Regions from separate parts of the Homo sapiens genome. Here region 1 is linked to region 2. A link means that fine-mapping ties the variant in region 2 to the expression of a gene that starts in the linked region. Tissue or cell type: monocytes. Region 2 holds a variant in brackets; the other region holds the start of a gene. All regions are shown on one strand. Distances are from middle to middle.

The links. PIP is the estimated chance that this variant, and not a neighbour inherited with it, causes the effect.
Region 1: it holds the start of LAMC1, and the variant in region 2 is fine-mapped to the expression of LAMC1 in monocytes (TOPMed, PIP 0.98).

What each region holds. Positions count from the first base shown.
Region 1 is chr1:183,020,057-183,028,187 of GRCh38, reverse strand. It overlaps LAMC1 (laminin subunit gamma 1), which reads right to left and starts at 4,768. Exons shown (of 28, transcript NM_002293.4): 1 at 4,054-4,768. The coding sequence starts at 4,471. RefSeq lists enhancers at 3,852-4,405, 4,961-5,515, 5,516-6,071, 6,809-7,308 and silencers at 4,360-4,499, 4,520-4,589, 4,640-5,029, 5,060-5,449.
Region 2 is chr1:183,130,148-183,138,147 of GRCh38, reverse strand. LAMC1 (laminin subunit gamma 1) reads right to left here. Exons shown (of 28, transcript NM_002293.4): 19 at 7,599-7,804; 20 at 6,770-6,849; 21 at 5,611-5,748; 22 at 4,598-4,742; 23 at 3,339-3,488; 24 at 2,992-3,106; 25 at 1,563-1,762; 26 at 321-479. Among named protein-coding and RNA genes, the nearest start is that of LAMC1-AS1, 7.1 kb to the left of the region's middle. The variant A/T (reference allele first, on the strand shown) is at 3,630.

The DNA of each region.
Region 1 (8,131 bases), 110 kb after region 2:
TGACCAATGACAAATGGAAGAGGTGGGGGGGGGGAGGAATGCCTTATAGCTCCAACTTCTCCCCTAATGTGTAAATTCTTTTTTGAATGCCCTTAGAATGGAGAAGGAATTTGGAGAAAAAGCAGTGAACTGTAGAACAGGAAAGCAGCCAACAGCAACTTTATAAAACTGTGTTCAACAACTGCTGGCCATTAAGGAAGAGCTCCTTAACTTCTCAAGTTGAAACCTGCAAAATGTAAATCAGGCCTTTGTGAGACAAACTAAAATAGTGTCCCCTCAGGGTGCACAAATACCACAGTGAAGTCACCACAGTGAGCTATTCCCTGACATAGTCAGAACCCACCTTGCAAAGGTTTTCCTGGGGGGAAAAATTGCCATTTGTTCCATGTTAAATACATACACACTCAGCAGAGGACCAAAGAGAATAAAAGGCAATAGCCTTATATATCAATTATTCTAACTTAAACACACAAAAAAGATATGCAGATGCAGATTTAAAAGCTTCATTTAATCACTATTGGTTCCTACAGTTTATGAGGAGCTTGGAAACTAATCTGGTTTCAGTGTTAATTTTAGGAGTTTCATAAACTTTGATTGGGTTGGTTTTATAAGCACTCTTTTCCTTAATCTAATTGTTTTTAGAAAGAGGAAAAGCTACCTTTCTCAAGATTAGGATCCTGTCTGCCAAGTTTCCATCCACAATGATTATCAAATTAATTAATGGGGCTGTTTGATAAAAGGCAAATCCTTAGCTACAATCTTAGTATCAACTACTACCCCACTGGTACTGATAAAAACTTACTATAACTTATAAGACATAAAACCCAAACTTTTTAACAGCAACTGAATAATCCATCCAGAAGTTGAAGGTGAAACAAAAAAGACTTCTTCTTAGAAAAGTGGCTGGTGGAGATTTCTCCCCACAACAAGCAGAAAGTGCAATTCTGGTTCCCATAGCAACTTTAACTCTTTTTATCCGAGGATGCACTGCACCCTGCACCCTGGATGACTGTGTATGGTGCTTAAGAGAGCGCTGTTTTCAGAATCAACACTGATTTTCCTGGCTTTTGTACAGCAAGTGATGATACAGGCACAATAATCAGATTTGTATTTGCCATCTGTTAAAATACGCCTCAGCCTCCCAAAAAGTATCAGTTAAAATGATCCTATAATTTTATATACACATGTGTATGCATGAAAAATTTCTAGAGGGTCATATTAATGTAAGAAATTGTGAAGGGTGGTCTCTAGGGCATGGAGCTTAGCAGCTAGTGATAAAGAAACTCACTTGTCATTACACTTACTGTTTGAATTTACAATGTCATGTTTCATTTTCATAATTTAAAAAAGTCAGTGCCAAAACACTTACATAACTACTTACATTTCTTATGTATGATTTGACTGCTTATTTTAAAGTTTACTGTATTTAAAGTTCAACATCAAAAGAAAGGCTAGAAAAGTGGTGGCTAGACCTAGTTCTTTCACACTACTCATTTCTAGCTTCACATGCTCTGTAATAGCAAAGCACAATATGCATCACTTGTTTAAGGGTATGTGAAATTTGAACTGGGAGGGAGATTTAATAGATGCACAAAACAGTCACGGTACTTTAATTCATGGGAAATAATTAGTTAGCTACAGCCCATGGAGTAACTGGAGTTGGGGAGTGAATATGCTAAACATCAAAACACACAGTGACACATGACACCTTGCCTACTTGTCATAAATTGTTGATCGAAACATACATGTATACATATAACCTTGTCATTAAAGGGGGGGGGAGGACAGAAAGAGAAACCTCAACCTCACTACACACAAACCTTTCCCCCTTCCCACCTCCTCCACTATGCATGATTTCTTCCAGGATGTCATTTCTGATCCAAGAACAAGTCAAGTATCCTAGTCAAGTTAGTTTAAACTAGAAGTTTAAAGTACATATTTTTACAGTTAATCACAATGCTTGTAAGAAAATACTTTAACTTTTAACTTACAAGTTTTAAACTCATAGTTTTATGAATTTCATTTAGCAAGAATATTACCAAAAGTTGAGGAAAATTTCAGCAAAACCAAGTCCAAGCATAAAACATTTCATAGTAAAAAGTGATGTTAGAGGTAAACTCTAAGATCTCTTTTGACCTTTTAATCAACCATGACCCAAAGTTAACATATCTGCCTCCCAGTGGGAGCAATCTAACGTAACTGATACTGGGTTACTCTACCGCATTATCTTTGCAACAGGGTAGTAATCACTGAGTAATCTATCTACCTCTGAAATCACCTTAAATAACCTTTAGCTACACAGTGCCTACAAGAGAAAATTCTGAGAGCCAAGATTGACAACCCCACCTTTATGTAAATAAGAGACTGTTGTTCAGTAATTGTCAATTGAATTTCAGGCATCTGAGATTTCAGACATCAGGCAACGCCTTTTCTTTGAAAATTTTAAAATCTGAAAATGAAAAAAATAAGACTTCAAGAGTATTCAAACTTGAACACAGAAACTTTAACAAGTCAAAAGTTAAACAGAAATACTTAGATACACATTTCAAAAATAATTTTGGCCAACTTAAAAAATATAACAGGAGAAAATAAAGAGCAATCTCACAGATCTTAGGAAATCCTCGGTCACTAGCTATGTCTTCAGAAAGGCACCTTTAAAAAACTGAACTCAGTGCACTTTACTTCTTCAATCCCTGAAAAACAGATACCTCATAGTATCATTTTATGAAATTATTTTCAAAATGTTTCATTTGTTTAATGACTCAACTGCAAATAAGATGTTAAATAATTCTGCTTTTCTAACACTTATTCCACACACAATAATTTAATCCCACTTTTCAAAGTACTTTTTGTTAAGTCCAATTCTTTCTCTGGAATCCTGATACTTACATAAAGTTTAGTGTACCGGAGAGCAGCAAAATCATGATCAAAAGAACCATTTGCCTACAACATGTTCCTTTCCAACACCCCTAAGTGATATTAGCCTTACAAAATTACCCTCCCTTGACAGAAGAATGGCTTGAGGCAGTCTGTTCTCTCTGGAAGTTCATTAGTACCAGCTACTGGTAATAATCAAGCCTTCCAAGGCAATGGGGAGTGAAGTGTTAAGTCAAACGTGTTTCTCACACATAGATTCCTCTGTTAAACACAATAATGAAACTTTCTGCCTATTTACGTATCTCAATGATGAAGAAAACCTTAGCTAGACCGAACATTATTTTTGGTGCTTCCAGATACATATGTCCATCCTCAATCCACTGCCCTGCCATGAAGTTTTCTACACATCCCTTTCCTGATTTCTGAAACATCACTTACACGTGTTTCTACAGTTGCTTTGAATGAAAGCAAAAGGGAAGACAGTAAAGGAGAGCCTTTTTACCCAGGGACAAGGCTATGCCCAGCAATTACAGTGAGTGCACTTCCTTTTGTTCATTCTGCACCAGGATTAGCAGTCAAATCGCTTTGTGGTTCTTAATTAAGGCTGAGCAGCTATAAAGAACAATAACTTCAAAAGTGAATTTATGTTTTAATTACACATAGGCAATATAGGCAGCGAAGGCATTTGCTCCCCTCAAATTCCCCCTTAACTCAACAGAGCAATCACCCTCAGCCCTGGAAGGACATCTAAACATTTTAAAGGCGAAAGTGTTTAAGGCGGACCTTCTTGTTTCCGATCCAAGAATGCGCTGTGATGACCTTGCTAGCAAAGAGAAAAGTGGGGATGGGAGTTTCTGATTAACGCTTCAGAAAAAAAAGGGGGAAATCACAATCCTAACAGCCGAAATGCAGAATAATCAGAGAGCCAGAATCCCGTTAAGTCAGAAAGAACAGGAAAGCAGAGAGACTCGTGCGGAACATCCTGGCCCTCACGGGATGTTAAAAGCAGTATCTATTTAAGAAGTTGGAGAAAGGAGTTTCTGTGTGGCCCATGCCGGGGAACAGAGAGCAAACACGCGGCCGTCTGCGCCCGTGAGGCCGGCCACTGGGACGGAGCCGGTCCGGGAGCTGGGCTGCTGGCGAGCAGTAGCAGGGGACGGGGCTGTCACCGCTTACCCAGGTGCAGCGTGAGGTTGATGGAGCTGGGGTACTGCACCCCGGCCAGCATGGTCTGGCTTTGCCACCAGGTGGTGTCGGCCTGGTTGTTGTAGTCGGTCAGGAAGGCTGCCCCGTGCTGCAGGTGGGGCTGCCCGGCGTCGCACAGGTGACAGGACTTGGTGACCCCGGTCACCCCGGTCTGCACACAGTATTCCTCGGGCGGAGTCCCACACGTGTTGGTGGCCACCACAGTCACGTTGAAGGCGGCGTTGACGAACTCGGGCATGCAGCGCTGCGGCCGCCCGCCCTCGTCCGTGCACTCGTCCATGGCTGCCTGGGCACAGCCCGCCGCGGCGGCCGCCGCCAGCACGGCCAGCACGGGCCAGAGCCGCCCCCGGGGCCGCAGGGCCGGCGCGGCCCGATGGCTCCCTCTCATCCCGCCGCCCGCACGCTGGGTCACGGCGAAGGCAAGGGCACCGGCGCGTTCCTCTCGCCTAGCGGCGTCCCCCGGAGGCCGCTTCGCTGCTTGAGCCTGGGGGCCCAGGGGCCTGACTCCGGCGCGGGCGGTGGCGGCGGCTCGCGCCGGAGAGACTGACGGGTGGGCGCCCCTAGCGAGGACCGCGCTGCTCGCCGACCACTGCCCCCGCGCGCCGCCTCCGCGCTTCCCTCACCTACCCCGGGAGCAGCCTGCACTCCGCGCCGACCCCCGACTTCCGAGCGCGTGCCCGAGTGCGCGCCCCCGGGGAGGAAGGAGCAGGGGGTGGGGTCGGCAGGGTGGGGTGGGGTCTGGGCGAGGAGAAAGCCCAACCCTGTCTCCTCTCAGCAACTCCCGCGGCCCCTGGGGCAACTCCCCGGCCCACCGCGCCCCATGGACTGCGCGTCCGCCCCGGCGACTCCAGGAGGCGGCGGGGGCGGGAGCAGCGGCGTCTCGCGCTCGGGCCCGCGGCGCGCGACCCGGGGGGAGGGGCGCGCGAGGTGGGCGGGGAGCCGGGGGAGGGGGTTGGGGGAGGGGAGGGGAGAGGAGGGGAGAGGAGGGGAGGGGAGAGGAGAGGAGGGGAGGGGAGGGCGGCTGGGTGGTGCATGCCGGGAGGGAAGGGCGGCCTCGCAGACCCGCTCCCCGCGCGGGAGTCGCTGGGGTCCTTGGGCTCCGCGGCCTGGGAGACTCCGGATTGCGGGAGGAGTCGGGGGAGGGCGCCTTAGAGGGGCGATGCCGGGTCAGGAGGTCGCTCGGGGTCGTCCCTGGGGCCTCGCGCCAATTTGGGCTGCGGCAAGAGGGTCCCCGCCCGGCCAGGTGTGGGTCCGAACCGGGAGCGCCCGCTGCTGCCCGGGGCCCCGCTCCAGCCCCTCCCGAACAGAGGTCCCGGGGCGTTCATGGGGCCGACACGGTCCCTGGAGAATCAGAAGGGCCTGGTCGCAGCAGCCAGATGAGTTTCGTGAAGCGATTTCCTGCCGCTGATTTAAAGTGTAACCAGTCGTTTTACCGGGGCAAGGAAGGAAGTGAAAAGGCTGGGAATGGAATGAATTTTTCCCTTGGGTACGCACGACCCACTGCGAAATTCTTCCACTGTGTTGTTTGTGTTCCTCGGCTTGCCTTTAAAAGACTCGAAATTATGTGGATTCTGACATCCTCCTTTTCGGGCCTGCTGAGTCACGGAATATTCTCAGTGCCAGAATGACTCAGTTCACAGAACCTGAGCCAGAAGATCATGAGTTTTAGTCCCGGAGCAGAACCTGGGCGCTTACCCAGTGCTGGATACGGCAAGCAGAGACCAGGGCAGGGAGGCAGCAGCTTGAAACCCTTGGCGTCCCCAAGCAGAGAGGATGCACATAGTGAATGACACGGATTTGTTTTGTTCTAGCTTTTCAGGAATTTAATGATAAAGTGCGGATAATAAGTACACCGCAAAAACAAAACAAAAAAACACATGCATAATTTCGGACCCAGTTGTCCCATTAAGATAGGCGTAATGGGAATCTGAAACAAGGAAATAAGTATATGTTAGGTGACTCTGGATAGTTAGGGTTAGTTAGACGCAGACTGCTGATTAGGAAAACCTTAAGGATAATGTTCTGGTAGGATGAAGAAGGGAGGGGAATCTAGGGTCTTGTTACACGGCTGAGCTTACTTAGCAAGTTATGTTCATCACTGTTCCGTTTATTTGATGAGATGGGTGGAGATTATGCATGGCTAAAGGTGCCTCATTCTTGGCACCTTCTCTTTGGGAGAATTAAGTTGTGGGGACTAATAATTTTTTAATCCTTTCATACATGAGTTGAAGCGAAATAAATACGTTCATTTACACCTAGAGGGGATTATATGCTCTCTCAGTCCTTCGTTGTACTTGAGGACAAACGTGGGCATATAGGACAAAAATAAGGATGTTAGTTGTGAATAAAGCTACAGATTTGTAATAAACTTGTTTATATTTTAATAAACATATTAGTGAATTTGCATTATTATACATTTTTAGTACTTTGTTATATAGTGGCCAAAGCGTGGGTCTCTATTTCCAACAATCAAAATAAAGACAAGGAGACCCCCAAAGGCTGTGAAATCAACATAAATGGGTTTGTCATTGCTGCCTTTTGAGTCCTAATGTCCAAGACTAACATCAAGATATTACTTATGCGAATTTTCCGTAACTTAATTACCAGAGCTTATCTGATATTTGTAAAGCACATAAAGAGACCTTGAATTAATCTCTCAATTCTCTTGCTTATGGAAATGTGTCACAGTGACAAACATCTATTTTGAAAAGAGGTAAAGTGTAACCAGCCAGTGGGCTTGATGATAAAAATTTTGCTCCGTTATTTGGATCTTGATTCAAACAAATCAACGGTTAAAACAAAATTTTTAAGACAATTTGAGAAATTTGAACACTAACCAGATGTTTGATGTTATCGACAAATTATTTTAGCCACCTAGAGATGCCACAGTCTACTAGACAGTATTTAAAGAAAAAAAGTGAAAGTGTGTAAGAATTTCTTTTACTGCAGGTTACCCTGTTTTTCAAAAAACTCCAGTCTTTTGAATGCACGTTCTTAAGTGCTTAGACATTTCATTATCAGCCGGGCGCGGTGGCTCACGCCTGTAATTCCAGCACTTTGGGAAGCCGAGGCAGGGGATTACTTGAGGCCAGGAGTTCGAGACCAGCCTAACCAATATGGTGAAACCCTGACACTACTAAAATTACAAAAATTAGCCGGGCCGGCTGGGGTCGTTGGCTCACGCCTGTAATCCCAGCACTTTGGAAGGCCGAGGCGGGTGGATTACTTGAAGTAAAGAGTTCTAGACCAGCCTAGCCAACATGGTGAAACCCCAACTCTACTAAAAAAATAAAAAAATTAGCTAGGCGTGGTGGCGCGTGCCTGTAATCCCAGCTACTTGGGCAGCTGAGGCAGGAGAATCCTTGAACCAGGGAGGCGGAGGTTGCAGTGAGCCAAGATCGCGCCACTGCACTCTAGCCTGGGCGACAGAGCAAGACTCTGTCTCAAAGGAAAAAAATCATCCCGGCGTTGTGTCCATGCCTGTAATCCCAGCTACTCGGGAGGCTGAGGCAGGAGAATTGCCTGAACCCAGGAGGCAGAGGTTGCAATGAGCGAGATTGCGCCACTGTACTCCATCCAGCCTGGGCGACAGAGTGAGAACCTGTCTCAAAAAAAAAAAGAAAAGAAAGAAAGAAAGAGAGAGGAATTCTATTATCTGAAAGACAGAGAGAAAAAGGAGGGATGGAGGGGGGAGGGGGAGGGGGAGGGGAGTTTCATTATCTACCAGACATGGTACTTAGAAGAAAAATGTGAACGGATGGGGAAAACTTTATTCAGGTCCCTCAAAAGATGATCTTAGTGCCCAATCATCAGTGTCTCTATGCAGCAACAAAGGCAGGATGAGGAAATGTAATTGTTTATTGTTTATTGTATGGGCAAGAGAGCTCCAATTAAAGAAAAAAAATGTGAAACTCCAGAGAAAAGAGATTTCTCCCTTCATAATCTATATAAATAATTTCAAGGAAGGATGTTGATTGGCTTGGCTTTGGTCACCTGGCATACCCCCAAAGCTAGGTAAATAGAATACCATGTGTGTGGTGTTTGGCAG
Region 2 (8,000 bases):
TCCTTTTTTATTAACATTTATGAATTACCCAGTGAAAAATATAAACACATACTTTTAATGTCCTAAAACCTCAAACGTGTAAAGCAATGTTTTACTTTTAACTGAGTAACTTTGGGACAGGACAATTGTGCAACAAAATTACCTGGCAGAAGATCCAAATTCTTTGTCTTCTATGTAAGCTACTAACCCAATTCTTGACGAGACAATGTGATGAAAAACAGAAGTCAATATAAAAAAGACTCTTCTCAACAAGTGGGGGATCTTTATTATTAAACACTGTTCACTTTCTGCCAATGAGCAAATATACCAAAACCTCTTACCATCCCTGCCATCATCATGTCCTGGTCAGCGTCATCTTGTTTTCTCTTTAGCTCTTTTTCTGCTTCCTGCAGTTGCTTCAACATATTGTTCACCTCATTATCCAGATCTGTAACTTCTGCAAAAGTTCTTTCAGCTTCTGCCTTGGTGCTGGTGGCATTCTAGGCACAAAAGAAAATTGTACTTTTTTTAAAAAAGCTTTCCTTTTTCTCAAGTATGCTCCCGCTCCTTTTATAATTTATAAAATGTCTTAAAAATATAATCCAGAAATAATAATATATTGATTTATACTATCTCATGACTTACATTATCAATTTGGGTTATAAATAATCATAAAAAAAATTACTACCCACATAATAACATTTTGTATTTTATCTAGCACTTTCATTTGTATCCTCTTCTTTAATCCTGGAAACTTCTGTTCTATTATTGCTATTTTTAGTTGGGGTCATACAGACAGCAAATGATAAACATTTAATGGCATACACTTTCTACGACATCATATTGATTAGATGCTTTCGCTGAGGTAAAATTTAAATTCAAAGCTAGCTTGGTTCATTCTTGGCAGTTCATCATAATGTACAAAAAGACCACAATCCTGAAATATGAGTATTTTATAAAATATAATTAATCCAAAAGCCAACTGTTCTAAGGAAACTAAGAGGTTTCTCTGATTCTTAAATACCTAATTCTAAAATTGCTCCAATCTCTCTTTTAAATAAAACAAACAGATTGACCTTGAAATAAGAGAAAGCCAAACTAAAAAACATTATTCTTGAAGATGACTTCAAAGAATCCTAGCAATGGCAGCTATGGGAAGTCTCTCCTAGGAGTGGCTTACATATGGCAATATACTTGAAAGGGGGACTTGAAAGTTATATTGATAAGGCACACTACATAGTATTGAAATAAATACCACCTGTCTAGGTCAAAGAAGAATGTTTATTTAGAAAAAGTCTGATTTTTTGTGGGAATGGGCTCTATAGACCTCTGAAGCCAGACCTCACACTGAGACATAGTAGAAATTTTAGAGTAAAGCACCCTTTTACTGAGTTCCCCTCCTCAATGTGGATACCTACTCTCATGCCTAGTCAAAAGAAAAAAAAAAAGACAAATATGGTTTAAGACAATTTTACTGAAGTTCAGGAAAAAAATCTGCAAGGGCTCTGAGGGTCTGGAAAGAAACTGGAAAGTGACCAGAGAAAGATATGGGCAGGGACTCTTGGAGAAGAGGAAACGCACACCTTTTGGACAGCGCTCGCGATCCTCTCCGCCTCATGGGCCTTGTTCTTGGCCTCTGTGGCATCCGCCGCAGCACTGCCCAGGGCCTGCTGGGCTTCTCTGGTCTTTTCATTGGCTTCAGTGATGGTCTGGTTGATGGCAGGAATCTTCCTTAGTGCCTCCTCTGCGGCCGTCTTGTTATCGTTCACACGCCTATCAAAATCTGAAACAAGTTCAAGGACACATTTGAGCTAAACTCCCAACAAGTAAAAAGGGGGCCTTTCAGGGAGTTCCAACTGGATTTTGTTTTATGAACAATGGAAGTCAGGGTAAAAAATGGAAGAGAGCATGGGCTGAAATTTTAGAAATTACACATCTCTACAGAATAGGTCTCCCAGTTAGTGTTATAGAAATGTTCCGTTTCTGGAAATAGAATTCTTACTTCAACAATGTGCTTTAAAATGCAGAGCGCTGAGCATCCCATTACCACTACCTCAACCATTATTAAAAGCTGCAATTTATTTAGTGTTTACTGTGTGTCGGGTACTGAGTTAAGAGCTTTGTGTCTTTGACATAAAATAGGCTGTATCATTTTTATAAGAAAATTGAGGATTAAAGAAGTTACATGACCTGTGGTGCAGGGTGCAGGGTTTTGAACCAAGGCCCACTGACACCAGAGTCCATATTTTGAACTACTACTTTTTTTTTTTTTTTTTTTGAGAGACAAGGTTTCACTCTGTCACCCTGGCTGGAATGCAGTGGCACAATCACTGCTTAGTGCAGCCTTGACCTCCTGAGCCCAAGGGATCCTCCCACCTCAGCCTCTCAAGTAGCTAGGACTACAGGTATGTGCCAGCATGCCCGGCTAATTAAAAAAAAAATTTTTTTTTATAGAGATGGGGTCTCACTATATTCCCCAGTGAGGAACTGGTGTTCAACTCCTGGCCTCCAGTGATCCTTCCTCCCGAAGTGTTGGGATTACAGGCCACCGTGCCTGGCCCATATTTTCAACTAGTACCCTGTAAAGCATCCTGTAAAGCTTCTCTATTTATAGAACCTATGACTGTTTTATCAGACAAGAATTCACAGTTGCTCAGTGAATTGGTCACATTTCTCTTCTATCTGGGGTGAAGAAAAAAAAACAACAACAAAGAATCAGATGCCACTGGCAGAGAAAATGAAAGATAATCTCCATTTACCTATATAAGTTCTCTAAATAGGCATCTTGGTTATGTGAGTTTGCCTAATAAGAAAACATCTTTAAAAAAAAATCCATACTGAAGTATGCAGGGATAAAATGACAGGAGCTCTGGGATTTCCCTTTGAAATACTTTAGCATAAAAAAAGTAGGGAGTTGGGGATGAAGTAATAAATATGGTAAAAGTCATGATTAAAAAAAAAAATCACTCTAGTGGCGGAAGCATTTGCCCCTGTTATCTCAGCCTTTTCTACCTTTCAGGTTGTTGAGAATGTCATTAGCTTCTTGTAAGGTATCCCGTCCCTTCTTTGCAGCTTCTTCAGCGAGGGCCTTGGCAGCATCAGCTCGGGCTAGGAGTTGGTCTGCGGTCTGCAAACACATGGCAGATGAGAGGATGAACCCTCAAAGCAAATCCCTTCTGTCTCCTGGACAGACAAGGCTCTCCAGAGGTGCCACCCTGAGACTTGCCAGCATAAAATCTGTTAGGCTGCTCTCTCAGCACTGGGGTCTGCTGTCTCTGAAAGTACGGCATCATCACAGACCCATTTGGACTGTTCAAATGTTGCCTCAAGAAATGAAGCGACCTGCAAATCAAACCAACCTGCTGTTCAGTCTTGCCTTTCTCCAGAAGGTTCTTGACTTCAAGTTCCTTCCCTCTCATATCTTCTCTGAGGTCCTCATAATCTTTTAATTTCTGGTCAATCAGTTGTTCCAGATTCTCAGCTTCCATCTTTATGTTATTTGCTTCATTCTGTGAAAAGCAAGTAAGATCACTACACTTTGGATAAAACATTTAAACTAATGAAAAGGTAGGCTTAGGAACTCTGTAACACCTAATACTCAATGATATTTTTAAAAGAACTGCACAGATCAAGATTTTATGGACTTTTTT[A/T]AAAAATGAGATATACTTTACACCCACTGAAGTTCACAGAATCCACATATAGTTTGATGAGTTTTGACAAATGCATTTCTGCATAACCAACACCCCAATCAAAATACAGATTTCCATCACCCAAGAAGCTCCCTTTTCTCCCTTTCCACCCGATCTCTACTCTACCTTTCCAACACTGTGCCTGCCATTGTTCTGATTTTTATCATCATAGACTAATTCTGCCTATTTTCTAATTATAAATATATAGAATCAGACAATCTGTACATATCTAAAGAGACCTAAACCTTTATGGTAAAAATCAAGTCAACACCTCAGATATAAGAAGTGAAACTTAGTAAACCTCAAGCTTAATGCAAAAAAAATACCATTTATACAGAGCTTGGAGTGAGAATCCATGATTAAGAGTACAGATATGAAATAAAATCCTACCAATTCCAAAATATTTTACCTGCCTCAGAACATCCTGCTATAGTCTTTTAATTAAACCATTCTCTCTTATTTCTCTCTAGGTCTCTACTAGACAGAGCCTGGGAGTAAATGTCTACATGTACTCTGCTTTAAGCAATTCAAATGTATTATTATAATTTGGATTTGCACTAAAGACTTAGGAGTGATTGTTCATATCATTAAAGTAGTCTTTGCTATTTAATGTTTACAATCACAGGATTCTTTACCTTGGTAAGTTTTTGTTTTTGTTTTTTTAAGAGATGGGGTCTCACTATGTTGACCAGGCTGGTCTTGAACTCCTGGCCTCAAGGAATCCTCCCACCTCAGCCTCCCAGGGTTGGCATTACAGGCATGAGCCACCACATCTGGCTACCTTGGTAAGTTCTATTAGCGTATGTGAAATAAGACTCAACTTTACCAGCGAGTCAGTGGGAGGACAGAGGGAGGTGCAGAGCAGTCGGCTCTCACATAGACTTGGGGGAGAGACGGGGTGGGGCTGTGCGTACAGGCTGCCCCCATACCTCCAGTGTCTCAGAGTCCAAAGGGCTCAGCTGAGCCACGCTGGCATAGATCTCCACAGCTTTGTCACCGGCCCTTTTGGCCTCCTCATGTACTCGGGCAGCTTGTTTTTCCAGATCCTGTGAGATGTTCTTCGCTTGTTCATACCTAAGACACAAATAATGTGGTTTAATGACAATCTTAGCTGCTTTTAGCATCTTAATGTTAACCAGATTAACATGATCATGTGATAATACGCCCAAAACCTCAAAGGAAATGCTACATTAAAATGCTTGCATTTTAATACCAACATTTTGCATATTTACATTTTCTTTTATCATTTCTATTTATAATGTATGGCTTGGCCGGGCACAGTGGCTCACGCCTGTAATCCCAGCACTTTGGGAGGCTGAGGTGAGCAGATCACTTCAGGTCAGGAGTTCAAAACCAGCCTGGCCAACATAGTGAAACCCCGTCTCTACTGAAAATACAAAAATTAGCTGGGTGTGGTGGCAGGCACCTGTAATCCCAGCTACTCAGGAGGCCGAGGCAGGAGAATCGCTTGAACCCGGGAGGCAGAGGATGCAGTGAGCCGAGATCGCGCCATTGCACTTTAGCCTGGGGGACAAGAGTGAGACTTCATCTCACAAAAACAACAAAAAAAAGAAAAAATTTTCTATAATGTATGGCTTACCATATACTTTCTTATTTCAGACACCCTTTAAAGATTTGTAGTTCAATTATGTTTCCTCTACTTACTCTATTATATTTTTTCTTCTTTATTTGTGCACAATTTTAAGTATCATGGCTCATCTTGTTACTATTCTCTGTAGTTACAGTAATTGAATCAAACCAAATCTCTGTGGCTTCACATGCCCTTCTCTACTTACTTTTCCATTTCAAAAGCATGATTAACAAAGGAAATCTTACTGCATGAATGTATGCCCTGAATGCACCAGCATTTAATTTTTCATTGAACTAGTGTTACTTACCAGAACACCTGAAGGGGTGTAAACCACTTTCAAATTATACTCACTTCCTATTAAGCTCTTCAATCTCAAATGCTGTTTGATTTTCTCCTGCCAGTGTCCTCAGAAGCAGGTTGTATGCCTCAGTTGACGTATCATTGGCTGTCTTTGCCACTCGAACAATGTCATCAGCTTCCTGTTTATGACTATACAGATAAAACAAAAAATAAGCCATGAAACAACCATCTGATAGGGACATAAGTAAAATTCAGGTAATGCTTACTTTATTATTATTATTATTATTATTATTATTTGAAATGGAGTCTCGCTCTGTCACCCAGGCTGGTGTGCAGTGGCGTGATCTTGGCTTATTGCAACCTCCGCCTCCCGGTTCAAGCAATTCTCCTACCTCAGTCTCCTGAGTAGCTGGTATTACACGCATACACACCATGCCCAGCTAATGCATCTTTAGTAGAGATGGGTTTCGCCATGTTGGCCAGGCTGGTCTCAAACTCCTGACCTTAGGTGATCCACCCGCCTTGGCCTCCCAAAGTGCTGGGATTACAGGCATGAGCCACTGCTCCCGGCCTACTTTATTATATGTACATATACTAACATGGGCAACAATTCTACAAATATTAGAAAACGTCATTCATTTGGAATTTTGTGATCATTTCAGTGGGGCTGAATTTATGAATAGCATTCTAAAACTGAGATGAGAATATTTTCCAAAAAAATTATTGGTATACATTTATAAGAGAAAATGTTTATAATTCTTCAGAAAAACTACTTTTAAATTTAATTATTTGAGAGTAATGTACATATAAAATTGTGTATGCCAGCAAGAAATCATTTACCTAGTTAAAAACAAATCCCATGCCTAATCTTTATTAACAACAATCTGCTAGTTTCATTCAGTTACTACAGTCTTAAATAAGTTAAAAATCTAAAAATATTATGGTTTTGAGAAATATAAATATGATTTGTCTTCAAACCATTGTATTCTAATATTCAAAGTGAATATTCTAATGTCAAAGTAAAAGGAAGAAAAGAGTATACACAGCTGATAATATCTTAGAAAAGAGAGCAAAGTGTGCAAAAGTGGGTTATGTAGAAAGTGTTTATGGGTTATGGGATAAGACAATACACACACACACACACACACACACACACACACCCCATAACAGAAGCCACAACTTAACCATTAAACAGGGATCTAGAAGTTACCGTTCAGCAAGCTTTCGAGCCTCTTCTGCCAAAAGAGTCATGTTGTTTGGGTCCCCTGTAGATTCTGGCTGAGTGACTGACTGCACAGGAAATAAAGCACTTATTCTCAAAGGACTGAATTATTTACATTTAATAAAGCAAGAGTCAAAACTAAATTTTTGTTAGAGGGCAAAAAGAATGCCTCTACCTTTTTTTTTTTTTTTTTTGAGATAGTTTCACTCTTGTTGCCCAGGCAGAAGGGCAATGGCACAATTTCAGTTCACCGCAACCTCTGCTTCCTGGGTTCAAGTGGTTCTCCTGCCTTAGCCTCCCAAGTAGCCGGGATTACAGGCATGCACCACCATACCCGGCTAATTTTGTATTTTTAGTAGAGACGGGGTTTCTCCATGTTGGTCAAGCTGGTCTCGAACTCTCGACCTCAGGTGATCCACCCGCCTCGGCCTCCCAAAGTGCTGGGATTACAGGCGTGAGCCACCGCGCCTGGCCCCAAGAATACCTCTTCTTATTTTCAGAGATCTTTATTTAATATCAGCACCCTTGATTGCAGATTCTATTTTCAGTAAAGGATAAAGGAAGATTAAACTGCCTAGTTCCATAGAAGGAACAAAGCTAGAGAAATAACCCAGATGTCCCTTGGTTTTTATCCAGTTTTTAATAACTGTTTCATGCCAACTATGAGCAATGTGGCTTTTCTGCCCCATATTTAGGGACAAATAAAAAGATGCATGGAGTCAATTTAGTTGAAGAAGCACTCCACTGCCAGTAACAGACTTGCTACAAACCCCAGGGGCCTCCCCCATCCCCACCTCAGACGTTTGCAATCACTTACCACATTGGCAGCAGCGACTTTTGCTTTCTCAAGTTCTCTGGATGCGATTTCAATCAACCGCTCTGTGTTCTCTACATGGGCACGCGCTTGTTCAGCCAAGTTTCCAGTCTCTTCAATGGTATTCCGGATATTCTGTAAACGGCTAATTTGGCTGGACAGAGTGTTATTCACTCTCTGTAGGCGATCCATCAAATTCTGGTCAACATCTAAAATGGTTTGCAGAAGAAAGTCTGTAAATTATCTGAAGAGGATCATATCATCTCACATGAAATCTGAGGCCCTATGTATCTCTACTCTTCTAAACATCGCAACTTTCTGCCAGGTTTCCACAAAGCCCCTGCCATAGCTGGACAGCCTTTACCACACCCAGTAGGTCCTTCACTGTGCACTCATCACACCTCC